Linked DNA regions of Homo sapiens. The protein of the gene in region 4 binds, or shares a complex with, the protein of the main gene of each other region. Each region holds a gene or a part of one and is shown on either strand. Other genes may lie near its edges. A codon is read from its position in the direction of its gene.

What was found.
Region 1: the proteins of TAF1 (region 4) and ASF1A are in contact, whole or in part, in a crystal structure (PDB 3AAD), measured with the Homo sapiens proteins. Residues at the interface, in NP_004597.3 of Homo sapiens: Asp1417, Lys1420, Ile1421, Thr1423, Thr1459, Tyr1460, Asn1461, Gly1462, Lys1464, Trp1527, Asn1534, Lys1536, Phe1537, Val1538, Pro1539, Gln1589, Tyr1590; in NP_054753.1 of Homo sapiens: Val6, Asn7, Asn8, Val9, Val10, Arg69 (codon at 3,711), Val92, Val109, Tyr111, Tyr112, Asn114, Thr120, Glu121, Arg123, Glu124, Leu140, Ser142, Pro144, Val146, Arg148.
Region 2: the proteins of TAF1 (region 4) and TAF7 are in contact, whole or in part, in a crystal structure (PDB 4RGW), measured with the Homo sapiens proteins. Residues at the interface, in NP_004597.3 of Homo sapiens: Gln591, Ser593, Pro602, Phe603, His617, Arg618, Pro619, Pro620, Leu621, Lys623, Tyr624, Gly633, Pro634, His635, Ser636, Val637, Gln638, Pro639, Leu641, Lys642, Arg651, Arg655, Phe664, Phe665, Met666, Asp671, Leu672, Thr673, Gly674, Lys675; in NP_005633.2 of Homo sapiens: Glu11 (codon at 2,025), Leu12 (codon at 2,022), Glu13 (codon at 2,019), Ser14 (codon at 2,016), Gln15 (codon at 2,013), Phe16 (codon at 2,010), Ile17 (codon at 2,007), Leu18 (codon at 2,004), Arg19 (codon at 2,001), Leu20 (codon at 1,998), Pro22 (codon at 1,992), Ala25 (codon at 1,983), Val28 (codon at 1,974), Arg29 (codon at 1,971), Val32 (codon at 1,962), Gln33 (codon at 1,959), Ser34 (codon at 1,956), Gly35 (codon at 1,953), His36 (codon at 1,950), Val37 (codon at 1,947), Leu39 (codon at 1,941), Lys40 (codon at 1,938), Asp41 (codon at 1,935), Leu43 (codon at 1,929), Thr44 (codon at 1,926), Ile45 (codon at 1,923), Glu46 (codon at 1,920), Leu47 (codon at 1,917), Pro49 (codon at 1,911), Arg57 (codon at 1,887).
Region 3: TAF1 (region 4) and TAF3 share a complex: the UniProt entries of both Homo sapiens proteins name them as parts of the TFIID basal transcription factor complex.

Annotation. Positions count from the first base shown.
Region 1 is NC_000006.12:118,897,151-118,904,173, forward strand, and holds part of ASF1A (histone chaperone ASF1A), read left to right. Parts: intron 1-3,615; coding exon 3,616-3,731; intron 3,732-7,023. UniProt on the Homo sapiens protein: Histone chaperone that facilitates histone deposition and histone exchange and removal during nucleosome assembly and disassembly.
Region 2 is NC_000005.10:141,317,990-141,325,314, forward strand, and holds TAF7 (transcription initiation factor TFIID subunit 7), read right to left. Parts: upstream 2,796-7,325; 5' UTR 2,056-2,795; coding exon 1,006-2,055; 3' UTR 501-1,005; downstream 1-500. UniProt on the Homo sapiens protein: The TFIID basal transcription factor complex plays a major role in the initiation of RNA polymerase II (Pol II)-dependent transcription.
Region 3 is NC_000010.11:7,961,482-7,968,504, forward strand, and holds part of TAF3 (transcription initiation factor TFIID subunit 3), read left to right. Parts: intron 1-2,438; coding exon 2,439-4,261; intron 4,262-7,023. UniProt on the Homo sapiens protein: The TFIID basal transcription factor complex plays a major role in the initiation of RNA polymerase II (Pol II)-dependent transcription.
Region 4 is NC_000023.11:71,362,192-71,369,356, reverse strand, and holds the start of TAF1 (transcription initiation factor TFIID subunit 1), read right to left. Parts: upstream 3,001-7,165; 5' UTR 2,983-3,000; coding exon 2,863-2,982; intron 2,808-2,862; exon of another isoform or gene 1,859-2,807; coding exon 1,744-1,858; intron 1,304-1,743; coding exon 1,187-1,303; intron 1-1,186. UniProt on the Homo sapiens protein: The TFIID basal transcription factor complex plays a major role in the initiation of RNA polymerase II (Pol II)-dependent transcription.

The DNA.
Region 1 (7,023 bases), on a different chromosome or scaffold from region 4:
TTTTGAAAAGAATTTTCTTAATAAGTTATTTTGCCTCAAGTCTCAAAGCAGAGTTTGGCCACCGTTTTTCATACTTTCATCAGTAGCCCCAAACGTTCACTTTCCTTTAAGAGCTGCCCTGTAGCTTTGCTTCAGAAAAAGCCTTGAGGAATATTTGGTCTTAAGATAATTTGGTTCTTTCTAATATAGGGCTTATATCAAGGGTTAAGACAGCCTGAGACCCTGGCTGGATGTGCTTGATGGTCACCAAGACTGTACAAGTTTTGATTGACCATCCTGCCATTCTTAAATTTATATATATATATATCTTAATTACAGCTACTGTCAATTGAATACTTATAATATACCAGAATTGAGCATGGTGCTTCATACTTTCCAACTTCAGCTTGTTCTAATTCCAAAGCCTACATACTTTCCACTAGACCACAGGTCTTCCCAAGTAGTGTAATTAGCTAAAAATTCTCTTGATGACTTCCCTCATTCACTCACTCTTTCACCACAAATGTAAATACTTTCAGGCTGGGTAAATCATTTAATCATGATTACTGTGATTAAATAAAAGTTAACTTTAAAATAAATGAACAAATTTCTTCACCTGAGAACTTATGTAAAACATCTGACCTTACCCTTCCTCCCTCAAATACAGGGGGCAGAGGAATTAAATGAAAGCTGGGTTAAAAAAAAAAACAACAAAAAAACTGATGCCAATGTATAAAAGGGTATTGAGCATGTAAAACTCAGCAACTGTAGCAAGCATCCCATAAACATAAAAATCAATGTACAAGTGTTCCCTGAGTTGCAGCCTGTTCTTGTTAAGGCTAGATTCTCTCTCCATCTCCTCTGCTCTCACTTCCCCTGCAAATAAATTCCCTTATTCCACTGCTAATTTCAGAGCTAGAAAGAATTTATCTTCCCAGTTAGGTTTTCAGAAGAAGCCCGGGGTTTGTAGTTACAGAGGCATAGCTTGGATTCTGATTCTTTGATGTACAAATTATGAATTTGTGTAGATTACTTAACCTCTCAGAGTCTCAAGTTATTTGCATAATGGGGATAATTTGATCTACATGATGAAGCTGTTGAGGTTTAAACAATAGGTATGAAGTAGAACTAATGCCCAGTATATAGTAGGTATTTTCTAAAATAGGTTTATAAATTATGGCTATGTTCCTATGCCAGTCCACAAATGCGAATTTATACCACTTAGGATCAAGGGCATTATATGTAGTGATACAATTATATATGAAATTAAAATTCATGAAAACCTTTATGTAATAATTTTTTTTTTTTTTTTTTGGAGACAATCTCGTTCCATTGCCCAGGCTGGAGTGCAGTGGCGCGATCTCGGCTCACTGCAACCTCCGCCTCCAGGGTTCAGGCGATTCTTGTGCCTCAGCCTCCCGAGTAGCTGGGACCACAGGCATGTGCCACCCCTAATTTTTGTACTTTTAGTAGAGATGGGGTTTCACCATGTTTGCCAGGCTGGTCTCGAACTCCTGACCTCAAGCCATCCAGCCACCTTAGCCTCCCACAATGCTGGGATTACAGGCGTGAGCCACTGCGCCCAGCCACTCTATGTGATAATTCTTAGTCTTATCCTCACTTGGCTAGTTTAGTACCTTTCACATCACTTTCTTAAAACAGTTTCTTCACTTGGCTTTTGGGTCACCTACCTCATTTGCCACTTGTTTTGTAACTTAATTTGTCCTCTTATCTTTGGAGGGCTCAAATCTCACTCCCTAGAGCAAGCCCATGTATTTTTATGGCTTTACATATCATTGACAGGTTCCAAATTTTTATCCTGCCTATTCAGTATCTCTGCTTAGAAGCAGACATCTCAAATATGTCTAAAATGAACTCCTGATTGCTCCCCTACCCCACATCACCTCCCTGCAAAAGTGGCTCCTGCTGCTTTCATCTTCAGGATTTTATCCAGAATATAACTGTTGCACAGCCCCATGGCCACACGAGGTCCATGCCACCATAATTTCTTGCCTCAATTATTGAAATATTGTTTCTTCCCTTGTCCTCTTACACTCTATATTGAACACAGCAATCAAAGCATTCCTTTTAAAATGAAAGTTGGCTCCTGTTACTGCTCTGCTCAAAACCCTTCGATGGCTTCCCATGCCACGCAGTGTGAAAGCCAGAGTCCTTATGATGGCCTTCAAAACCGCATGATCTGGCTGTTCCCCTCATCCTCAATCATAGGGTTTGGTGCTTTCCTCCTTCCTTTCATTCTGCTCCAGCCCTAGCCTCCTTGCTTTTTCTTGCCAAGTGTGCCCTACCCCTGGGCCTTTGTATTTGCTGTTCCCTCTGGCGAGATACTTATATTGCCTACTTCCTCTCTATCTCCATCAACAGATGATCTCAGGAGATGTCAGATGCAGCACCCTGCATCTGGAAGTGTGCTGGAAGCTGGAAATAGAAATGGTTTAGTTCTAGGACAGAGCCATGACATAATAGGTCCTCAGAAAATGATTGCTGACTTAATAAGAGAAAATAAAAAAGGAGCTTTCAGTTGATTGTAGTTTACAATACAATATAAATAAGCAGTACGTTACTATTTCTATTATCAATTTAGGGAACAAAAATATCTACAGTTACACAAAAATGGCCACACATGGTGGCACTAACTAGATTGTCATGAGTGACCCAGAAACTCACCCTTTGGGAGTGCTTGTGTAACAGTGTGTTGAATGCAAGAGGCAGGCCACACAGTGCAAAATACCCAAAGAAGATGAAGAGGTCTCTCAGAGATGGTTTGTATTACAAAGTTATCTTCTTCCTCAGCTAAACAGGAGACTCCTCCAAAGAGTTCTACTCATCTCTGGGTTCACTTCACAGAACACATTGTAAAACATGCTCAGTAAAATCCGCTATATTGAATTACATATAACGCCTTGAATTGCACCTGAATGTCTTTTCCTCCTGCCTATCTCCACTGTGTATACTCTATTGTATCACGTGGTGTAAAGATCTTGGTTTCCTCTGCCCAATTTAAAGAATGTATGACACAGGGGGGTGCCGTAAGGGAAAAACCCTACCATTGTTCGTTGACAGTTGATGAGCTGAAGCCACTTACTTCTGAGCCATGAGGGAGGTTTTACTAATAATTTTTCTACTTTGGAGCTCTGTGATTATTTGGATCTCTGCAGCGTAGTATAGGGCTGCCCTTCCAAAGTGTGTTGAGAAGGGCCTTAAAAGATGATATACAAAAAAAGGGGGATTCCATAGCCAAATAAATTTGGGAAGTGCTGGATTAATGTTACTGGTGTTCTTTACTGAAGGATATCTCAGAAAACTTACTGTGCCAGCATGCTTTATGAATCCTCAAGACAAGGTTTACAGCATTTCCCAAGTGTTTGGCTATGTTATCTTGTTTGTGAGGCACTGTCCAGGAACTAGTGTTTCACAAAAGAGTATTTTGAGAAACTCTGATCAAAGTGTGAACTCTGGTAGGAACTTTATAAGGAGCATTTCACTGCCTTTCTGGATTGCTATGAGAAGCCAATTTTAAAGCCAGTAAGTGGCTAAGTGGACATTAAAAGGGTCTTTGATGTCATCTGGTAATGTAATTACTGAATATGAAATAATGCTTTGGTTTTTTAACCCTAGACTTGGAATGGAAAATTATCTATGTGGGCTCTGCAGAAAGTGAAGAATACGATCAAGTTTTAGACTCTGTTTTAGTGGGTCCTGTTCCCGCAGGAAGGCATATGTTTGTATTTCAGGTAAGATTAATCTTGGTAAATGTGTATGCCAAATATGTTTCGAAGTAGACTATATTATCTATTATCTTATAACCCTTATCCCTTTCCTTTTGGGTTAAAGAACTGCTTCTGCTGCATTCACTTTAAATCTGTTTCCATCATGTTTTAGGCAGTCTCTGTGTCACAGAGGAACTCTTACTTCCTGGTTTTATATGCTGAGAGATGTTAATGTGACGTTTACTTTAGAGAGATGAACAACCTACAGTAAATTTTATACTGTATCATGGCACACAGGGTGGTGAATTTGGGGCTCTTCCTGTGAATAGCACCTCAGTATCAGACTTCCAAGGTGGCTGTCTAGCAACCCAAAACATGGATTCAAAATATCTAAAACTAACTGGCATTGTTAGTAATATGCATCTTCAGTTTATGGTTTCAGCCACTGGAACTGATGGTGATGTAACAAAAACAACTTTATTTCAGCATAATCAGTAGTTGAGCTAGGTTAACAGATACGTTTAGTGGATAGAGATGTGTGGTCTTGGGTCATTGGAATGACATTCCAGAGTTTACTAAAGCATCTTATAATCTACATTATCTTATAAGAGGACTACTTTTGCAAATTTACTACCCCACTAGGTATTTGTGAAGAGAATTTCTAGTAATAAAAATTTTGTTCTTAGATACCACTGAGAGTATTTGGATCTATACCAAGGCTTCAGACATTGTCTTCTATATTCAAAAGTGTTATTTCTTTTAATCCATGTTAAATTGCTATATGGAACCATTCAGTTATTCCTCAATTATGCATGCTTATTTATAAGGGAGATGTTTGTAATAGACCAAAGAGTAACTAGCCATAGGTTTTTTAAAACTACTATTAATTTCTGTTACAAGTATTTCAACCCAGCAATGTCCCATCAGTTAAGTGGAACTCACTGAAAAGACTTAATCCAGAAAGAAAATCTAACTCTTCCTATGCCTGACCTCTGTTTTCTCACTTCACAGATGGGACCAATTTAAATGAATACCATTGGTCAAATAATCCCATCAGAAACTGGCAAAGAATCACTTAGACACATGCCATCTCTAGAGCTGCTACCTTTCCCTCCCCTGTCCTAAATACAGAATTTAGAATCTTGGTTTCCTAGCCTTAGTACTTTTGATTAAAAAGCAACAAATAATTTACTGTATCTAAAGAAATAGCTAAGAAAAGCTCAAATATACTAATCAAATATATGAATTAAAAGTGCTGTTAATCAAAGTTGTGTGAGTGCATAACCATGTAAAAGACATGGGTAACAGAATGCCCTGTTCTGTAGAAGGAAGCACTGCAGTTATAGATATAGGTCAAATCCCGACACCTCTGTATTAGCCATGTGTGGCTTTACCTCTCTAACCTCCTCCCTTAGTCATTCCAGTCTTCTATAAAATGTGGATAATATTCTATCTCATTAAAATGTTATGGGGAATAAAACAGTATAATCAGTCACTCATAAAGAGTGCCCTATTCCTAAAATTAGAACTACATTTTTATTCTCTTAACTTCTTGAAATTGTTATATAAAAAAGCAGGACTTGCTCTGACCCACAGGCCTAAGGAACCCATACTTTACTGATAATTCATGATACAGTAAAAGAAACCTGGGTTGACAGGTACTGATAATACTTTTTTTTTTTTTTTTTTGGCTACTATAAGAACTTACAAATAAATGCCTTGTTATTGAAACAAACCCTTGAAAATCTTTTGTGTTTGTTATTAAGCATACTCCTAAGCTTTTGGCTGAAAGTGCTGTAGCAAAAAAAATGTATTCAAAAGTATTTCCTGCTGGTGATCTTCACGTAGTTTTACCTTGGTGTCAGTGTACATGTTGCCAAAAAGAACAGAGGAGGTACAATGTATATTCAGCCTAAAGGTTTTACAGAATTCACCATTATCAACAGAAAGAGACTAAATTACAGCTTTTGTTTTGTATTTTAAAACTACTATAGTAATCTCTTGGTCTGCCATGATTTTGCCTCTCTAAATAGTTAAACATGTCTTTCTTCTGAGTGAGTCAAAGGCTAGCAGGAAGATGTCCAGACATCTGCCTAGTATTGCCAGCTAGAGTCAAAACAAAGATCTCTGCTCATTACTTCTGCATCCTAAATTATTTGAAAGGCCTGTAAGCTTCTCTACTTAAATTTGCTCAAACTGAATCTTTTTCAAATTGTAAAATGCTTTTTAAAAGATGTTTTATATTTACAACAGATTTTAAAACAGAAACATGCCTAGAACCAATTTACTGAAGGGAACCAATTTACTGAAGGGAAGGGGAAGAGTTCTCATAGCAGTACTGAACTATTATATATTTCCCATCTCCACCCACTTCAGGTATATTAGAATCCGTTTGGGTACACTGAAAGTAATCTAACCCCTCTGTGCAGGGGTGTGTAGAATCTCTAAGACAAACAGCATATTCTCCAGGACAAGGCTGGCTGTCCCCTATCCTGGTGTCTTGCCAAGAGATCATAAACCCCTTCAGGGCAGGAACTGATTTACAAATGAATTCCAAAATACTAAGTGCTCAGAGCTGAGCCACACGAGATTATAAAGATGAACTGGATGGGACTCCTGCCCTGGATAAAGCATAGCATCTAGAAGAGAAGACTGAAAAATAAACATGTTTAGATCACAGGGCATACGTTCTTAGATAATTTGTGACAAGAAATATCAGCACATAAAAAAGGAATCTATTGATTCTACCTTCTGAGTTAGAAAGGGCGTCACTGAGAATACACTCGATGTAAGCTCCAAAAAAGATTAAAAGATGAATTTTTCAGGATGTGAGCGAAGGACCTTTCAGGCCAAGGGAACAGTATGTTAGAAGCACAGGGGGTGAAGTATTTCTTTTTTAAATTTGTTTTTGTAGAGATGGGGTTTCGCCATGTGGCCCAGGATAATCTCAAATTCCTGGGCTCAAGTGATCCACCCACCTTAGCCTCCCAAAGTGCTAGGATTACAGGCGTGAGCCACCGTGCTCAGAGCGTGAAAAGATTATCACCACGTTTTAAAGAACCTGTGTGATTCATATCTCTAGAACAATGGTGGAGTTAAAGGAGGTATGAATGGAGATATTGGCTGGAGACAAACTGAGAAGGGCCTTGTCAATGAAGTTAAAGAACTGAGATTTTATCCCTTAGAAAAGGGAATACTCTTCTGAGGGTTTTAATAATCTGAGGTTTTAAAACCAAAGAGAAAGAACATATCTGTGTTAATGCTGGTAGCAGTGCAAATGATAGGCTAGAGCTGGGGAGATCAGTTAGAAAATTCT
Region 2 (7,325 bases), on a different chromosome or scaffold from region 4:
TTAGAGCATGAGAAATTTGGTACCAACTTCCTTTATGAGCAATTTTGATGAAATGACATTGATAAATGACCTCAGTTCTCAGAATATTAATTATAGGAACTCAACTGAAGAAAATTAGAAATATTAATCCAAACCAATGGAATGGTTCATTGGACTGCACTTGATAACCACTGCTTTGTTTCCAACATTTTATGCAGGTAGATTTAGCGCTTTTTAAAAAAGGCACAAAGGCCTTCATCTACAAAAATTAGGGTACTTTAAGAAAGCTCTGTATCTAATGTTTCCCAGCTTTCAAGTAGATCAAATAGAATTGGAATCTTAATATGATGCAAACATGACCATTCCCAATTTCTTTACCCCTGCTGTGTTCCTTTTTTTCATAAACCCTACTGCCTCTACCTGCAGAACGGGATCAAATTGCTTAGTCACTAAACTCCACCATAAAACCACCTCACAAGAGGACCTGACTCCCACCAACCATGAAAGAACAAGATACACTATAAAGTGAAAAACAGATGCTTTTATTTATTGTATTGGAAACAACTTAATAATTTGCATCTCTACATATAGAAAGCTGCTTTGAATAACTGGGAAAACAATTATTGCATAGGAAAACATATGCAAACTAGCATCATTGTCTCTAGACTAGGTTCTTCTTATTGATCTCACGTCATCACAAAGCAGCAACAGCAGCTTCTAGAAAATGGAGAAACAGTAAAGTCCTGCAATGAAGCTATAATTAAGGTTGAACCATACATTCCGCTAATCCTGCAACTTTCCTACAATCATTTTTCTGCCTATACAATCCTGCTTCTTATAGGATGAACACCTAGCAAAACAATATAAATTTGCTGAAAAACAAAATTACAAACAAATGAAAGAACTTAACAGAACACACAGCATTAAAAGGACTAGGAAGAGCAAGGTCTTAATACCCAGTACAATAAAGCCAAGAATTTTCTAATGCTGACCAGTCTGAAGACTGAAATTAAATATCAGTTCTTTTTACTTCTCTAGGAGTGATTCTAGCTCCTCTTGCAAAGAGCTGAGTTGCTCCTTTTCTCGGTCTTCCTTTTGTTTGAGCTCATCCAGTACAGCCTGAAATCTGTTCTTGAGAGCCAGATTTTCCACTTTCATGATGAGATCCTCTTGTCGTTTTGCCCTGTCCTGGGTCTCTTGGAGCTTGCCTTTCATGTTGTCAATCTGCTTCTGAATTCCCATAACCAGCTGATTGGTTCCTTCATTTTCCTGGTGCTGTTCATCTGATTCATTTAGCTTGTCCTGTAGCTGTCTCTCCAGATCTTCCTCCGTGTCAATGATGTTTATATCTTCTTCATCTTGATGCTGGGTCTCATCTTCATCCTCACTGCTGCTGCTGAGGTCATTGAATATCTCCCGAAGCTCATCATGTTCTAATGAGTCATGGCCCTGCCTGTGACCAGACATTCCTGGAGAAGAGATATCCAGGCCTTGATTTTCTGCCTCCTTTGTTTCATCTTCGGCAATTATTTCCCACCGAGTACTAACAGCTTCAGCATCTGTACTCAGCAATCGTTTCACTTCTTTTTCAACATCTGGAGATTCAATATATTTCTTCTTTGCTGTCTTCCGGAACCTTCTCTTCCTGACATTCTTTAGAGGCAGAGTAATTCCGTGGTTCCAGATAAACTTTTTCTCTTTGTCCTTATCCTTTTTCTTGCTTGCTTTAGGATCAGTGCTAGCAACTGGCTCCTCCACAGGAGGATAGAGATCACCATCAACTGTGGATACAAGCATCTGACAGATATCAGCTGTCTTGTAAAAAGTTTTTTTATCAATGGTTTTCAAGCTTTCCATAACACAGGGCAGGTCTACTAATTTTGAGGCCAATGGAACACGGTCCACTCTGACGATTCCATGACGCCCATCAGGATGTAACTCAATTGTCAGTCTGTCCTTGAGGTTGACATGACCAGACTGTACTGCCCTTCTCACAGTAGAGGCATATTCTGGAGGCAGACGTAAGATAAACTGGCTCTCCAGTTCGTGAGGAGCATCATCTTTGCTTTTACTCATCTTTATTTCCTTGTGATTCACTTCTCCAATAAATGCTGGTTACACTAAAAAGTTCCAGCTACTGCAATAGTTTAAAACACCAGTTTGCTATGAATTGAAATCTTTTAATTACAAGAAGTTCTCTGTAGATCAGCAGCTAAGCGTCTATTTTGCCTTAGTTTTTATTTAAGCTCCAAGTCTTTTCTCTAAATATGCTGTGACCGAATACCAGTCGTTAACACAAAGGCTTATTCACAGACTTAAGTTCATTAAATCAGATGCAATGCCAAGTCCCAACCTCTAGGTGCCGCTGCCGGACAACGCGGAGAGAGCTAGCTAGCTAGCTAGGGAACAGGAAAGCAAATGGCGGCTCCCCCGGAACGGTTTTCGGCCCAGAAAGCCCAGCAGAGATACTTTCAACTCACAAACTCTCCCGGAACAAAGACACTCAAAAAATCAGGGCTCAGCGAGCTCTCTTCGCCTCGGGTACTTACAATCCAGTGACGATTATAAGTTCAGTTTCACCGGGCCGGAGCGAAGGGAAGAGGAGGCCGCAAGGAGCCAAGCGGGAGAGAGCCGAGCGTCTCCTTGTCGTTTCCTTAATTCTTCCTGCCGCTTGGCAGAGTGATCCACTACCGATTACTGATGAAAGGGCCCGGGATGGGCAGCGCGAAATCTTGCCGAGAGGCGCAGCTCGCATCACCAGACCCCGCACCTCGCCGGCCCTCCGTCCGGGTCGCCTACCCAGCAAAAACGGAAGTGCTACGTCGCGACGCGGGGCGGGAGGCGGCTGTGAGTGACAGCCCCTCCGGGCGGAAGGGCGGAGCCCCAGCTAGCGCAGGCGCAATAGCGCAATTACGCTGCCCAGCGTGAAACTCATCTTTTCGCGAGAACTTGTTTTTCCGGGATGGAAATGACAGTGTTTCGGAAGAGCTGTTGGTTTCAAACTATTTAGAGCTTGGAAGTTCCAAGAAAGACACAGATTCGTCCCCCGCTAAGCCAGCACTTTTACGGGATCGCTGTGGGGCCGGATGGCTTCTAGACTTCCGGGTGATTCCGGGAGATGGGGGACGCCTTGCAGTAAGCGTCTTTGCTTCTGGAAACATCTCGGATGTTCCCTAGAGTCTAGCCTATCTGGTGCCAATACAAGAATGTGTAGCTACTATACAATGGATTTCAAAGTACCCAAATCAATGGAGTGAGGAGGACATGCAGCTTACTATATAAGTCTCTCTCTATATATATGTTTGTTTGTTTGTTTTGGAGATGGAGTCTCAGGCTGTCACCCAGGCTAGAGTGCAGTGGCACAATATTGGCTGACTGCAACCTCCACCTCTGGGGTTCAAGCGATTCTCCTGCTTCAGCCTCTTAAGTAGTTGGGATTACAGGCACGTTCCACTACCCCACCTAAGTTTTGTATTTTTAGTAGAGAAGGGGTTTCACCATGTTGGCCAGGCTGGTCTCGAACTCCTGACCTGAGGTGATCTGCCTGTCTTGGCCTCCCAAAGTACTAGGATTATAGGTGTGAGCCAGCGCGCATGGCCCAAAGTCTGTATTTTTAAATATAATTCCCTGTAGGGGAATTGTGCCTCTGGTTTTACTTGTGTTCTATAATACTTCTGGGGAAACAAGGGTGATTCCTTTTTATGTGCTTGATTTAGATGTAAATGTAAACAGAGAAGGAAGTGTTCTTTTGGACAGAATTGTCTGATAGACTGAGCATCTGGTTAAAGTAGATATAATTGAAGTATTGTTTCCTGTCTCTCATGTACAAGTAATTTTAAATTACTTTGACATTTTTTTTAACTCCACCTCTACTATTTTGCTGTTTTCTGCTTGTCTTTTCTATCAATAGTCAGGTATTCATCAACACATATTTTTAGTATTTTAACATAACTGGGTAACAGTTGGTACTTATTTCTATTTATTTCCATTTATTTTTAAAATATCTGGGAGAGCATCAAGGCCATTAATATTTCATTTCTATCCTCTAAAATATTAACAATTGCCCCTAAATTTAAGAGAATTCTCTTAAGATGTAATTAACATTTCCAAAATTCACTTTATTCTTGTATGATTGAAAGCTCCATGATAGTGATCTTCTTCTATCCTGGTCATTGTGTCCCAGTGCCTAGTACCAGAATGTGGGAGATACACAAAAAATATTTGCTAATTGAATGAAAAAACTTATCTGTCTAGAAAGATCATAGTCTCAAATCCTGTAGTGATTTCTGAGAGAAAATACATTCTTTGTCATTTTAAAATGAGATAGAGCCACTTTACATACATTTCCTTTCTAGTCAAGGACAATTCTAATTGTTATGAGGTGGGGAGGTTTACTAATAGTGTGTGTGAATGTGGTTTAGCTAGAATGAGATACTGTTGTGGGAGGAAATTAAAATGACCTGACGTTAGTTTGGTTTTTAATGTTAATTTTAAAAGAGAAAGTATGCCCTTCCAGATAACGGTAAATTATTTCTCTTTGCTTATAATGTGTTGAAGAATGTTAGCTGACTTACTTGTAATTTCCAGAATGATCTATTTCCTCTTTTTCAAAGATGAAGTTTTTTCTGTTACAGGCTTGAGCCACCTCGCCTGGCTGTGTTTTGTTTAACCATATACAATGTGAGGTCATTATACATGAAAATAATCCAAATATTACTCAGCATCTTCCCTATGAGTTTTATGATGCTCAAATATTCTTATCATAGAAGGTAACTTGAGATAAATTGTATGCAATTTTTCATTTTCCAAAATTACTGTGTATTTTAGTTTCTAAACCTTTCTTTACATGGAATATTGCCAGACATAGTTAAAAGGATTAACTGAGGTTTTCTTAATGTATCTAGCTCCTTCAGTCCTGAAATACATTTTCTGCTTTTGAGTTTAACACATTTTCTATATGCTGTTTTAGGGGAGGAAATTATATTGACCCTAAATATTTTTTTAAATTGGATTTATCAGTAGACATTAAGATAATCTGCTGGGTGCAGTGGCTCATGCCTGTAATACCAGCACTTTGGGAGGCCAAGGCGGATGGATCATCTGAGGTCAGGAGTTCGAGACCAGCCTGGCCAACATGGTGAAACCCCATTTCTACTAAAAATACAAAAAAAGGGCCAGGCGCCGTAGCTTACGCCTGTAATCCCAGCACTTTGGGAGGCCGAGGCGGGTGGATCACGAGGTCAGGAGATTGAGACCATCCTGGCTAACACGGTGAAATCCCGTCTCTACTAAAAATACAAAAAATTAGCCGAGTGCGGTGGCAGGCACCTGTAGTCCCAGCTGCTCGGGAGGCTGAGGCAGGAGAATGGCGTGAACCCAGGAGGCAGAGTTTGCAGTGAGCCGAGATCGCGCCACTGCACTCCAGCCTGGGCAATAGAGGGGACTCCTTCTCAAAAATAAAACAAAAACAAAAACAAAAACAAATTAGCCAGGCTTGGCGGCGGGCACCTGTAATCCCAGCTACTCGGGAGACTGAGGGAGGAGAATTGCTTGAACCCGGGAAGCGAAGGTTGCAGTGAGCCAAGATTGCACCATTGCACTCCAGCCTGGGCAACACTGGAGCAAAATTCCATCTCAAAAAGAAAAAAAAAAAAAAAGATAATGTGATGTGGCAGTCCTCTGCCTATCACTAAGGCCTAAGGCCTCTGCCACATCACATTATCTTAATGTCTACTGATAAATCCCCAGTTTTTTTTTAAAAAAAAGTTCCATTAGACATTCAGAAAAACTCTGAATTGATGAATTACACTCCTGTGGTTGTTCCATGGAATATCTGTGATACCAGTGAACAAAAGATTTGGGGAGAGCAATAAATTCCCCAGTGTGGTAACAAGTCCTCCAAAGGCTTCCTGTCTGTGATTAAGGAGTGTGGCAATCAGGTTACTAATAATCGTGTATGTTTGAAAATTCCCTTTAATACACTTTCTAGTTCTTTAAAGGGCTCCAAAATATAAGCTGCCCTTTAATACACTTTTTAGTTCCTTAAAGGGCTGCTTATACTTTGGAGGTTAAATTATGGGTGATGGGAGAAATCCTGCTTATATTTAGGAGGTAGAAAATTATAGGGGTGAGGAAATAGCAAATACCACAGAAAAGCCAGCTTACATATTGCTATATCACCATATATTTTAAAGATAAAAAGGTTAACTAAAAATATTTAGCAGTTCTTTTATCTAGTAGGATGTTTTCTATAGGAAAACATTAAAATCTAATTTATGCTGGTTTAAACAGTAAGAAAATCTATGATCCCAAAATACAGGTAGTCTAGCACAGCTTTGTCCTATAGAAATATGATGTGGGCCACAGATGGTCAGCCACAGATGTGATTTTAGATTATCTAGTAGCCACATTCAAATAGCAAAAAGAAACAAGTGAAATTTCAATAATTTTAATCCAATATATCTAAGATATAATTGCAACATATTTTTACAATAATGTAAAGATATTAATAATACGTTTTACATTCTTGTTTTGTACTAAATCTTCAACACCTAGTGTGTGTTTTACACTTACAGCACATCTCAGTTTAGACTAGCTGCATTTCAAGTGCTCAGTGGCCACGTGTGGCTGGTTGTTACTCTAGTGGACAGTGCAGGTCTAGAAGTTTCACTGCCTCTAGGCCAGATACAATCATGGTGTAGCACAAATTGTTTTTTCTTCCTAATTTTGAAGAATGAGCACTTATTTATACTTTTTCTGTTGTTTCAGCTCTGCTTTCCTCTCCTTGTGGAATTCTAAAGGCTGTAGTCACAAGATACCAGCCAGCAGCAATAACTGGAGAACTTTCTTCATTGTCCGTGACAAGAGAGTTACTCTCCCCAAACAGTCTATCTTTCAATCCAACTGGACCAACTTAGGCCATGTTCCCATTCTTAGCTCAGTAATACTAGGGAAATACCCTAAGCCTGTGTTTCTGAAAATGGTTGGGGAGAGGTGAGGTGACATTTGGTAATGTCTGGAGACATTTATGGTTGTCACAACTGTGGGGGGTGGGTCCTACTGGTATCTAGTATATAGAGACCAGGGATACTGCTAAACATTTTACAAGGCACAGAACAGCTCCCCACCACAAAGAATTATATGGCTCAAAATAGTACCAGGGTTGAGAAGCCCTGCTTTAAGCTTATTATTTTAAGTCTATATTCCTAACTAAGCACTGTCAAGAGGATGAGATTATCATTATTAGATTAAATTTATCAGAACCTACTACAGCTCTGAATAGGTTCTGCTTCCCTAGGTACATTAAGGGCGAACACCTAAACTAAAAGGAAGTGTTACAAGAGGAA
Region 3 (7,023 bases), on a different chromosome or scaffold from region 4:
AACTCTTGCTCCCTTGATCTCTTTGACATCTGACCCTCCATGTATTTCTTTAGTTCTTCTTCCTTTTCTTTTTATATATAGGTATTCCTCAAAATACCTGAACCTGTTTCCTCTTGTTTCTTCCTTGTTCATATCATCCATCATGGTGACTTTAGTTATCTCAACAACACTCTTTCTCTCATGCACTCTGTCCTGTTTTCTGATCATCTGTATTATATTTCAGCTGCCGAGTAGGCATTGCAGACTAAATGTTCATCAAACTCTGTGTCTAGGGATTGAGCTAATAATCATTGTCCTTTTCTATTTCCTTATTTCCTGTTTCTGTTCATCACTACATTTATCACTCACCAAGGCTCAAAGCTTTCTTTCCCTTTTTTTTTTCTTTAAAAATAGGGTCTCGCTCTGTCGCCCAGGCTGGAGTGCAGTGGCGCAATCATGGCTCATTGCAGCCTCAACCTTCTGGGCTCAGGTGACCCTTGCACCTCAGTCTCCCAGGTAGCTGGGACTACAGGCACGCACCACAACACCCAGCTAATTTTTGTATTTTTTAGTAAAGATGGGGTCTCACTATGTTGCCCAGGCTGGTTTCAAACTCCTGGGCTCAGGTAATCCTACTCCCTCGGCCTCCCAAGATGTTGGCATTACAGGCATGAGCCACCATGCCTGACCAGGCTCAAAGCTTTGAAATTGTGTTTGAGTCCTTGCTCAAGTCTTATACCCTAATCATTTATCAGATTCTATCCATTCTATCCTCAGAATATCCTTCACCTCTGCTGCTTCCTGATCATTTCCACTGTTCTAGCTCTGACCCTTACTGCCTCTCACATCACTTCAGTAATCCATGTTATTGCTCTCCTTCAGTACCCATCACCTCCCACCCTCATCCATCCTGCGTGTTCCTGCCAGTGTGACTTTTCCCAACACATACCCCACACGTTTTTCTCTGTTGTCTAAAATCCTTCTAGGTCCAAACTACCAGTAGAATAAAGATTATGTTTCTTTTTCTGGAATTCAAAAGTCCTAGGATCTGGATGCAATTTTACTAAACCTGCTTCCTACTGCTCCCCACCTTGCACTCTACTTTCCAGACAAATAATTTTCTGTTTCTCTTACACTCCCCGTGTTTCACCTTCATCTATTTGTCATCTGACCCTTTGTCCTGGACTTCACCACTTCCAGTCTCCAACTATCCCAAACGCTGCATAATTAATCAAGCCTCCTCCGCATGATTGACCTCGCTGAGATCTGTCTCTCCTTTGACCTGCTGTAGCACTTTATCTGTCTGTGGCACTGATCACTTTCTGTGGGCTAGACATATCTGTTATTGCTGCACTAAACTGTGAGCTCTTTTAGTTGTGATTTATTTCTGATTTATTTCAGTGGCTCTTTTAGACTTTATCATTGTACATTATATGCTTAGTTAAAATGTGTTGGGAGAAATAATCTGATCTTAGAAAAACTCAGCCAAGTAGGCAGGGCAAGTAACATCGGCTCCTTTTTGAAAGATTAGGAAACAGGCTCAGAGAGGTTGAGAGAGTCCCTAAGGCTGGTTGCTCTCTAGTGCCGTAACTCTAGCCGAAAAACCATTTGTCAAGTGCCTAAACCAAGTGTATTTCATTGCACCATACTCCCTCTCCAAGTGGCTCACATCAAGCAAGCAAAATAGAAGACATAAGTAGTATATGAATTTGTCATAAAAGTCCTAAAAATACCTGTCATTCCTGATAATAATAATAATCCATACTAAGTCCTATAATAATCCATCTCTTGATTTTTTAGAGGGTGTGTGGGTGCGCACGTGTGCTTCTATGTGCATGAGAGAGAGATAGAGAAAGATGGCATTTACTGGTTAGGAAAATAATTAATTCAGGAAACAACAGAAGGCCAACTGGAAATACCGAGCAATTTCCAGATCCTGAGGTTAGGGCCAGACCATGTGAAAGGACAATGATCAATTTGTACATCTGCTGTTACTGACTGCCACTCTTTTAAGAATGATGGCACACATGTTTGGAAGATCCTTGAAAACTAACTTACTTTTTAAACACTGTCAATAATTTCCTTTTTTTTTTAGAAATCATGTTTGAACGCCGCATGTTCTCACTCATAAGTGGGAGTTGAACAGTGAGAACACATGGACACAGAGGGAGGGGAACATCACACATCGGCACCTGTTGGGAGGTCGGGGGCTGGGGGAGGGATAGCGTTAGGAGAAATACCTAATGTAAATGATGAGTTGATGGGTGCAGCAAATTAACAGGGCACATGTATACCTGTGTAACAAACCTGCATGTTGTGCCCATGTACCCTAGAACTTAAAGTATAATAATAAAAAAGAAAGAAAAAAGAAATCATATTTGAAGCATTGTTTTTATTTCTTAGGTTTTGTTACATTCCAATAATATTTATTTTTTTCTTCCTTTTTCTTCCTTTACCAGAAGAAGAAGAAGAGCAGGTGCCCACTGATGGAGGCACATCAGCAGAAGCCATGCAGGTTCCCTTGGAAGAAGATGATGAATTGGAGGAGGAAGAAATTATTAATGATGAGAATTTCCTGGGCAAGAGACCACTGGATAGTCCTGAAGCTGAAGAACTGCCAGCCATGAAGCGGCCTCGGCTATTAAGCACTAAAGGGGACACGCTAGATGTTGTGTTATTGGAAGCTCGAGAGCCACTCAGCTCAATAAATACTCAAAAGATCCCACCAATGCTTTCTCCAGTCCATGTACAGGACAGTACAGACTTGGCACCTCCCTCACCCGAGCCGCCAATGTTGGCTCCAGTTGCAAAATCACAAATGCCAACTGCAAAACCATTAGAAACAAAGTCATTTACACCTAAAACAAAGACTAAAACTAGCTCTCCAGGACAGAAGACTAAATCACCTAAAACCGCCCAGTCACCAGCAATGGTCGGAAGTCCTATTCGATCACCAAAAACTGTATCCAAAGAAAAGAAATCACCTGGACGTTCCAAGAGCCCCAAGAGTCCCAAGAGCCCCAAGGTCACGACTCACATTCCCCAAACACCTGTGAGACCTGAAACGCCCAACAGGACTCCTTCAGCTACACTCAGTGAAAAAATCAGTAAAGAGACTATCCAGGTAAAACAAATACAGACACCCCCTGATGCTGGGAAACTGAACAGTGAGAATCAGCCGAAAAAGGCTGTGGTAGCAGATAAAACGATTGAGGCCTCTATCGATGCTGTGATTGCACGAGCCTGTGCTGAGCGAGAGCCAGATCCTTTCGAATTTTCTTCTGGATCGGAATCTGAAGGAGACATTTTTACTAGCCCTAAGAGAATTTCAGGCCCGGAGTGTACTACTCCCAAAGCTTCCACTTCCGCGAACAATTTCACAAAGTCAGGATCCACTCCTCTGCCTCTTTCCGGTGGAACCTCAAGTTCCGATAACTCATGGACAATGGATGCCTCCATTGATGAGGTTGTACGTAAAGCAAAACTGGGAACACCTTCAAATATGCCCCCCAACTTTCCTTATATCTCTTCTCCGTCAGTGTCTCCTCCCACTCCCGAACCTCTCCACAAGGTGTATGAGGAGAAAACCAAGCTGCCTTCCTCCGTGGAGGTAAAGAAGAAGTTGAAAAAGGAACTAAAGACTAAAATGAAAAAGAAAGAAAAGCAGAGAGATAGGGAGAGGGAAAAAGACAAGAACAAGGACAAAAGTAAGGAGAAGGATAAAGTGAAAGAGAAAGAGAAAGACAAGGAAACTGGCAGGGAAACAAAGTATCCCTGGAAGGAATTTCTTAAAGAGGAAGAGGCAGATCCCTACAAGTTTAAAATCAAAGAATTTGAAGATGTTGATCCCAAAGTGAAATTGAAAGATGGACTTGTGAGGAAGGAGAAAGAGAAGCATAAAGATAAGAAGAAAGATAGAGAGAAAGGCAAGAAAGATAAAGATAAGAGAGAGAAAGAAAAAGTGAAAGATAAAGGCAGAGAAGATAAGATGAAAGCCCCAGCACCCCCACTGGTGTTGCCCCCAAAAGAGTTGGCCCTGCCCTTGTTCAGCCCTGCCACAGCCTCCAGGGTCCCAGCCATGCTGCCATCTTTGTTGCCAGTGCTTCCGGAAAAACTGTTTGAGGAGAAAGAGAAGGTGAAGGAGAAAGAAAAGAAAAAGGACAAAAAGGAGAAGAAGAAAAAGAAGGAAAAAGAGAAGGAGAAGAAGGAGAAGGAAAGAGAGAAAGAGAAGAGAGAGCGAGAGAAGAGAGAAAAAGAGAAGGAGAAACACAAGCATGAAAAAGTAAGCAGTTTCTCATTTTTGGCCCTATCTGAACAGAGTCCTAGTGAGAAACACAGGTAAACAAAGCCCACAATTATATCTGTATTCTGGGTGTAAATCACCCATCACTTAAGTGGAAATATGTTTATAATGAGGTTACAAAATTTGATTTTAATTCTAAAACCCATAAACCTGTAATCAAGCCCTCAACACACTAGCAGATGTTAAAAATTCATAGCCTAAGAGGCATCTAATCACAGACTATAAACTCTCTATTAGCTATAGTGATCTCTGGCAGCTTAAAAAAAACAAATCTGGGTTCTTAAATTGTGAATAATATTTATGTGAATTATCAAGTGTACTGCATTATATTTTGCACCCATATATTGAGAAAGGCAGCATCCATGTTTCTAAAAGCATGCAAAACCACGGCACTATTTTAAGAGGACAGCAAGGCCCGTGGAAGGACCACTGCCTTGGTTTTCTTTTTGGTGCGCCATTTTGGCATGTGTTTAGGATTATGCCTGTCTACAGAACTTTCCGTAGCATCTTTTATTCCTTCCGTTTTCTGCTTTAATAAGATAAGGGCACATTTCTGAGTATCTAGGCTGATCTGGCAGCCTGGTGAGTGGGCAGAAAGTAATCCCACATGGCAGAAATGTTTGACCATCTCAGTAAGTCAGACTTCATTTCATAGCATACAGCCCGACAAACTGATAGAAACCCCGCAGTTTTGTAGGCATTGGGGCCTCAGTCCTCAGGCTGTGACCTCTGCTTACCCAGCTTTGCTTTTCAGTCTGTGGTTTCTTGGATTACAGCAGCCGGCTGGGTTATTTGAAAATTTCTCATAAACTTTCCGAAAAAGTATCTCTTCATAGTGCCACCCCAGAGCTCCTGATGATCCTTTCCCTGCCCTCTAAAAGTTATCTTCTTTGAGCTTGGCCACAAAATAATACCCAGTAGTTTTGTTCATATGATAAAATTTGATGTATTTGACCTGCAGCAGATATATTACCAATAAATTCGGAGTATTTTTAACTTCAAACTTACCTAGAAAACTGAGTGTATTTGACAGCAGTAATGGCAACTCCCATTTTTCGCCTACCTTGATTTGTTCTTTGTTCTCTTTGGCTATCCTAAAATATAAAAAAGTGAAATGGGAATTCTGATATCAATAACTGAACATTGACAAGTTAACAAGACACAGAAATCCAACTCTTATTTCCATTTAAAAAATCATTTTATTTATTATTATGCAATTTCTATATAGTAGTTGTCAGGTTTTAAAGCAGATCCATACACCTTGTTTTCTCCTCCTAACACACCTGTGACATAGGTCCAGCAGGTATTATCATCGATATTTATGGAAGAGAAACTGAGCCTGAGAGAGTGACTTGTCCAAGATCAGGATGACACAGCTAGCAAGAGCCAGGTCAGTTACACTGCAGAGAGACTTCACGTGGTGAGGGGTTTGTTGTTAGAGATACTGCCTGACAGCAGTTAGTCATTTATCCCTTGTGTACCTAGTAAGTTGGCAGCTGAGCCCTCAGTAAATCAAACAGGGGACTGTTCCTGTCACCACCATCTTCACTTTGGAAAGTCAGTGGAGTTGTTTCAACAGCCATTATGAATTTGAGTGAAGCCATCAGATTAGGTTTGTAACAGCAGTCCCATGCCTTTCTACAGCATCTACCTGACTTTAGGGAAGAAAAGTCCCCCAGACCACCTTGGTGGAAGGCAAAGGCTCAGTCCCTCGAAGCACAGAGTCCACCTGAGAGAAAGATACATGTTCTTGGATCAGTTTTGCTGGGCTATGGAGCAGGTACATGGCAAAAGATAAAAATGTAGAAAATTCAGCTATCTTATAAGACCTTTATAAATAATAAATAGTAATGTCTATAGAATTAGACCTGAGTTCAGATCCTGACTTTTGTAAAATGGGTAAGTCATTTATATAAGGATTAAATGAGAACATACAAGGTGTGCTTAGTACCGTATCTGACGCATAAATGTCAGTAGATGGAGAGAGTGTTCCATTCTGAATCAAACTATAAAATGTAGGAACCTGGAGATTGCTGCTCCATTGGACCATATCAGCTAGCCTGTGTTAATATGGGCAGGTCAGCTATTAATAGGTTTTAAAAATTATTCTACTTCCTTGGCATTCTTTGGAATATTAGCCCTTGATACAAATAGGAAAGGATAAAGGTTAGGACAACCCAGGGAAATGCCATTGATAAGGAGTAGAAATTGGGATAGTAACATAAATGTTAAGACTTCCCTTTCTTCAACCCCGTTTAAATCCCCCAAGCACCACAGCATATGAGTAAACAAAAATACACCTGAAATGCGGTTCCATATGGTCCGAGAATTTTCCTACAAATCTACAGAAGTAAGGCACCAAAGGTTAAACTAAAGTGAGACATATCTGCTCACTTTATGTGAGCAGCTTTATGTAAGGCACCAAAGGTTAAACTAAAGTGAGACAAGCTGCCCCAAGAAAATGTTTTCAGCCAAAAGAATGAAGGCCACAATCTCATTTTCCCTTCTCATCATCCTGACCAAGAGCAACTCTCCCAGACACTGACCCAGATCGGCAAGCAAGAGCATTTGTTTAAATTTTTCAATCTCCACATTTATTTTACCTGCTTATAAAGCTGATACCAAGAACCAATAAAGATGTGATTAATTAAAACGGAATTTGCATGGTAGGTAGAAGGAGCTTTGGGCTTTGGAATCCAGCAGACCTGGAATAAGATCCAGGACAAGTTTTTTAGCTTCTT
Region 4 (7,165 bases):
ACCCTATACCAGAGAGGAAAAAAACATATTTGCAAGCAGGTATCAAGTTCATTGTTTTAGGCAGGGTGCGGTGGCTCACACCTGTAATCCTAACACTTATGGAGACCGAGGGGAGCAGGGTCACTTGAGGTAAGGAGTTCGAAACCAATCTGGCCAACATGGTGAAACCCCTTCTCTACTAAAAATACAAAAAAATTGGCCAGATGTGGCCGGGCGTGGTGGCTCACGCCTGTAATCCCAGCACTTTGGGAAGCCGAGGCAGGCGGATCACGAGGTCAGGAGATCGAGACCATCCTGGCTAACACGGTGAAACCCTGTCTCTACTAAAAATACAAAAAAATAGCCGGGCTTGGTGGCGGGCCCCTGTAGTCCCAGCTACTTGGGAGGCTCAGGCAGGAGAATTGCTTCAAACCGGGAGGTGGAGATTGCAGTGAGCCGAGATCGTGTCACCGCACTCCAACCTGGGCAAGAAAGTGAGACACTCCGTCTCGGAAAAAAAAAAAAAAACAGTTGTTTTATATTGGGTTTTTTTTTTTTTTTTTGAGACGGAGTGTCTCACTCTTGCTGCCCAGGCTGGAGTGCAGTGGCACGATCTCGGCTCACTGCAACCTCCACCTGCCGGTTTGAAGCAATTCTCCTGCCTCAGCCTCCCGAGTACCTGGGATTACAGTCATGCGCCACCACGCCTGGCTAATTTTTTATTTTTAGTAAACGGGATTTCTCCATATTGGTCAGGCTGTCTCAAGCTCCCGACCTCAGGTAATCTGGTGAGCCACCACGTCCTGCCTTAGTTCATTGCTTATGTATGACGTTGTATCCTTCTTGAACTATCCATTCCTTAAGGGCAAAAACTGAATTTGTTTCATAGTTTCCAACTTTGAAGTGTATCTCACAAACCCTGTAGGTATTCAAATACCAGGTGACAAGAAAGCTACTTGTCATTAACTAAGAATTCATGACTGAACAGTGTGAGGAATAACCACATGAATACGGTTAAGACTGGCCAGAACACAAAAAAAGATAGCAGCTACTTGGAACTGACCTGACAAAGGGAGTGGAGGAGCCAAAGCAAAGGCATAGAGAGCAGAAACAATGGCAGACAGCGGGTATAGAAACCAGAGCCCAAACTGGACTATACAGCAGGATAATGCACTGGAATGTTCAAGCCAATACACCAAAGAATCACCTGAGTGGCAAAGGGGCTGCAAGCTCCCCATCGTCTGCTGGTATCTTCGGCTTTCATCTTCTGCCACCTCATTGATGTCTGAATAGTCCACAGCATCTTCTGTACTCCTAACCCACCCTATGAAAAAAGCAGGGAGAATCGCAACAACAGTAAGCGACCCTCACTCCCTCAGATAATTCCCATTTAAAAGTACATGTACAGGCTGGATGCGGTGGCTCACGCCTGTAATCCCAGCACTTTGGAAGGCCAAGCCAGACGGATCACCTCAGGCCAGGAGTTCAAGACCAGTCTGACCAATATGATGAAACCCTGTCTCTACTAAAAATACAAAAATTAGCCGGGCGTGGTGGTGCGTGCCTGTAGTCCCAGCTACTCAGGAGGCTGAGACAGGAGAAATGCTTGAACCCGGGTGGCGGAGGCTGCAGTCAGCCCAGATCGCCCCACTGCACTCCAACCTCGGAGACAGAGCGAAACTCCGTCTTACACACACAAAAAAGTACATACATAGTAGGTGGCTAGCCTCCTCCCCCGCCTACTCCCCACAACCCAGACTTCACCTTCATCATTTACCAAGGCACCGTCAGTCCCGGTCAATTCTTCATTTGCCGTGAGTTCAGTGATCAGGCTGCCCAGCCCCAAAGCCCCCAAGCCTGCCAAGTGCTTCTTACATTCCTGAAAAAGGGACAGCACGAGTCGAAGATAACAACTAAACCTACGACTCCCACACCACAGGACTTATTTCCCTGGTCCACGACAAAGTCACAAATCCACATGAAAAATGACTGTGCAGTGTGCCAAAACAAGCAACACGTTCGAGAACTGTAATATACATCTACCAAACTCCGCATCGATCAGATCTTTATTAAAGCACCACAGCCAACTGCATCGCCCACACTTTAAAGTATACTACAAGAGAAGACGAATCAAATAACTACTGCCAAGACTGAATGAATGGAACGGTCGTTCTCGGAACGAGGGCCGAGGCAGGGGGATCAGTGGGATTGGAGGCGTCGAGGCGGGGCTCGTTCGGTCCCTGTTTCGCATGCGCCTGCGGCACAGGAGGGGCCACAGCGGCCGACAGCTTCACTCCTCAAGAAAACGGGCCTAAGTGAAGGCAGGGTAGTTTCACTAGGGCGCAGGACACTATTTCACGAAAGTCAGTGAAGACGCTGGGAGAGCCACCTAAAAGGCGCACTGTGACCAGGAGGCCCGCTCGGGTGCTAGGAACACCCCATTGTCCTAAGCCTGAGGCCGGAACCAAACGAGCGGGAGGCAGGTCCTGTCCAGTCCTCTGGCTCTATAGAGCCATCTCAGGGCAGCGATGTCAGAGGGGCAGGCAGTGTCAAGAATCTCCAAGCAGGTTACGGGTGGGAAGCCATCTCAGTAGGCGAAACCAGCATGTGTCCTACTGTCTGGTCGGCAGAGCGCTAGCTCCAAAGCCACTATTCCCTGCGCCCCTGGCCCCGGGCTCGCCTCGCGCTCTCTTCTGCCCACTCTCCCCCAGAACGATCACTCCCACGCCACGTTGCTCCCGCACCCATGAGGACGGGATCCTCCTCCCCGGCGTTAGCTGCGCCCTGTTCTCGCTGCCTGAGCACCCTCTCCTTTCCTCCCCGCACCTCCTTCCTCTGCTTAGCCCCACCCCCCGAGCCCTACCCCCACGCCCACCCCCTCACATCATCCAAGACGCTTTCCCCCTCCAGCTGCCCGGCTCCATTGATGTTGCCGAAAAGGAAACCCGCTAAAGAAAATGGGCCGCCTCCAGCGGAATCTTCGTCGCTGTCCGTGTCTGACATGATGGCGGCAGCAGTGATGGTAGCTGCTGTCCGCAGCAGCAAATCGCAGCCGGGTCCCATAGACCGGAAATAAAACAACAGTCGCCCAGAAGTGACTTACTGAGCTCCCTTACCCTACCAGCCTCTACCGGAAGCTCAAAACAGAGGGGAAAGGGAGGGGGAAGTGGGGAGAGGGGAGGGGGAAGGGGGGGAAAACCCGGAAAGACCGGCTATCCTAAGAGAAAGAAGTAACTACTTTACTAACGGCTTTTGATTCGACGCTACGGGATCAGGAGGATGGATATGTGGAAAGCGGTTGGTCAAAGAAAATATTCAGTCCCGCCCGCTCCCACTGCTCCGCGCGCGAGCTTTCTCACGGCACCGAATTAGAGCAGTGGCTCTTCCTCCAATCAGAAGGAGCTGCTCGAGTCACGTGGCTTACGCGCAGGCAACCTCGGGTTCCTGTACCACAATACCCGGAAGTAAGGGTAAGAGCCGGTCTTTGTGCTGCGTGCAATTTCACCGGTCCGTCCCAAGGAGAGACTTGACGTAAATTATACAGGCATTCCCGAGCTATGCAGGTTACTTGTTTTGAGTTGACATTTTTCCCTAGAAATTGATTTTTTGACCGGACGCGGTGGCTTACGCCTGTAATTCCAGCACTTTGAGAGGCCGAGGTGGGAGGATCGCTTGAGCCCACGAGTATGAGGCCAGCCTGGACAAGAAAGCGAGACTCCATCCATACACAAAATCAAAAAAATTAGCCAGATGTGGTGGCCAGTGCCTGTAGTCCCAGCTGTTGGGGGGTCTGAGGTGGGAGCCAGGAGTTGGAGTCTGCAGTGACCTGTGATCGGGCCACTGCACTCCAGCCCGCCTCAAAAAAAATACTTGTTCCCCCAACGTTTTATTTCGGAAAATGTGAAAGTTTAGTAAAATGAACAGCTGACCCCTCACCTAGACTCACAATGGTTAACATTTTGCTAGGATTTTTGTTTTTCTAAACCATTTATGGGCATCTTGTTCTTCACTCCTAAAAATAAGCATCTTAACTATGGAACCAAAGTACCTTTATCACAACTTTAGGAAGTAAGTCAATATTATTTAAGGAAGAGTCCGCACTTAAATTTCCCCAGTTGTCCTAGTTGGAACATTTTACGGGGTTTCGTCATGTTGCACAGGCTGGTCTCAGACTCCTGGGCTCAAGCAATCTGCCCGTTTCAGCCTCCCAAAGTGCTGGGATTGCAGCCATGAGCCAACACCCCGGCTTTCACCTTGCTTTTTTCACATATTATGATAATATAGACTGAAATAATTTCTTTACCACATCATAGCACTCTTCCTCATTCTCCCTTTTTTCCAATACTAGGATCCATTCACGTTTCATGCATTGTATTTGGTCATCTTCCTTTAGTCCAGAATCACCTGCCTTCTTGTTTGTTTTTCATGACACTAAATATTTGGAAGAATCCAGGCAAGTTGTCTTGAAAACATTCCATGATCCGAATTTCTCTTGTTTCCTTTTTTTTTTTGAGACGTAGTCTCGCTCTGTTGCCCAGGGTGGAGTGCAGTGGTGCTATCTCGGCTCATTGCAAGCTCCACCTCCTGGGTTCACACCATTCTCCTGCTTCAGCCTCCCAAGTATCTGGGACTACAGGCGCCCGCCACCAAGCCCGGCTAATTTTTGTATTTTTGGTGGAGACGGGGTTTCACTGTGTTAGCCAGGATGGTCTTGATTTCCTGACCTCGTGATCCGCCCACCTCGGCCTCCCAAAATGCTGGGATTACAGGCGTGAGCCACCACACGCCCGGCCTTTTTTTTTTTTTCTTTTTTTGAGACGGAGTCTCTTGCTCTGTCTCCCAGGATAAAGTGCTGTGGTGCGATCTCGGCGCCACCACCCCTGGCTAATTTTTGTATGATTAGTAGAGCCGGGGTTTCACCATATTGGCCACACTGATCTCAAACTCCTGACCTCGTGATCCGCCCGCCTCAAGTGCTGGAAATTACAGGAGTGAGCCTCCGCGCCCGGCCCAGGTTAAATATTTTATCAGCCATCAGAAGGTACACTGTCAAATACAGTGTTGTCCTAGTATTGGTGATGCTAAATTTCATCACCTTGATAAAGTAGTCACCACCAGATTGCTCCATCACAAAGGTACAACCCTGTGTAATTACTAAGTAATCCACAGGTACTTAGAGATTGTGTGAATATTCTTTTTTTTTTTTCAGTCTTTTGGTACTGAGCCCATCCTTCTGCAGAATAAATTGTGAATATTCTTTTCCCCATTGACCTTGCACCCAATGTGGTTTTAGCATTCATTGATGTCCCTTGCCTAAATCAGTTATATTGGGAGAATGCGAAAGGATGATCTTTCTTTCTTTTTCTTATTTTTTTTTTGAGAAAGTCTCACTCTGTTGCCCAGGGTGGAGTGCACTGCCGACCTCCTTCTCCCGGGTTCAAGCGATTCTCCAGTCTCAGCCTCTTGAGTAGCTGGGACTATAGGAGCATACCACCACACCCGAATTTTTGTATTTTTAGTAGACACGGGGTTTCACCGTGTTAACCAGGCTGGTCTCAAACTCCTGACCTCAGGTGATCCACCCGCCTTGGCCTCCCAAAGTGCTGGGATTACAGGCGTGAGCCACCGCGCCCAGCTTGGAATGCTTTTTAATGTAGTTTATGATAGTTACGTAGCAGCGCGCACAGTGGCTCACGGCTGTAATCCCAGCACTTTGGGAGGCCGAGGCGGACAGATCACCTGAGGTCAGGAGTTTGAGACCAAGCTGGCCAACATGGTGAAACCGTATCTTTACTAAAAATACAAAAAAATTAGCCAACACGGTGGCGCACATCTGTAGCCCCAGCTACTTGGGAGGCTGAGGCTGGAGAATCGCTTGAACCCGGGAGGTGGAGGTTGCAGTGAGCCGAGATCGCGCTACTGTACTCCAGCCTGGGCAACAGAGCGAGACTCTGTCTCAAAAAAAAAAAAAAAAAAGTTATTTAGTACGATATTGTCTCTTGGATGCTTGTGCTTGAGGAAAAGCAGACTGAATAAAGGTAGAGGCTTGTAGGATGTGGAAGGAGACTTCAGGTCCTATAAATATAAAAGATAACTTTTTTTTTTTTGTAGAGACAGGGTCTCACTATTGTAGCCCAGGGTGGTCTTGAACTCCTGAGCCCAAGCAATCCTCCCGCCTTGGCCTCCCAAAGTGTTGGGATTACAGGTATGAGCCACCACACCTAACCTAAAGATACAATTCTTTTTTTTTTATCTCCCAGCCTGCTCCCAGCCGAAAGATACCATTCTTGATTCAAAACATGGTTTCATATATTCACATTGTTCGGTCCAAACAGTAAAATAAAAAGTTTTTAAAAAATAAAAATAGGCTGGGCACGGTGGCTCACTCCTGTAATCCCAGCACTTTGGGAGGTCCAGGCGGGCAGATCACCTGAAGTCAGGAGTTTGAGACCAGCCTAGCCAACATGGTGAAACCTCGTCTCTACTGAAAATACAAAAATTAGCCGGATGCGGTGGTGGGCGCCTGTAATCCCAGCGACTCGGGAGGCTGAGGCAAGAGAATCGCTTGAACCCAAGAGATGGAGGTTGGCAGTGAACTGAGATCGCACCACCACACTCCAGCCTGGGCAACAGAGCGAGACTCTGCCTCAAAAAAAGTTATTTAGTACAACATATTGTCTCTTGGATGCTTGTGCTTGAGAAAAAGCAGATTCAATGAGAGGTAGAGGCTTGTAGGATGTGGAAGGAGACTTCAGGTCCTATAAATATAAAAGATAACATAATATTCTTTTTTTTTTTTGGTAGAGACAGGGTCTCATTATGTAGCCCAGGGTGGGCTCCTGAGCTCAAGCAGTCCTCCCGCCTTGGCCTCCCAAAGTGTTGGGATTACAGGCATGAGCCACCACACCTAACCTAAAGATACCATTCTTGATTCAAAACATGGTTTTATATATTCACACTGTTCTGTCCAGAAAGTAAAATAAAAATTTTTTAAAAAATAAAAATAGGCTGGGCACGATGGCTCACTTCTGTAATCCCAGCACTTTGGGAGGCCCAGGTGGGCAGATCACCTGAAGTCAGGAGTTGGGACCAGCCTGGCCAACATGGTGAAACCCCATCTCTACTAAAAATAGAAAAATTAGCTGGATGCGGTGGCGGGCGCCTGTAATCCCAGCGACTCGGGAGG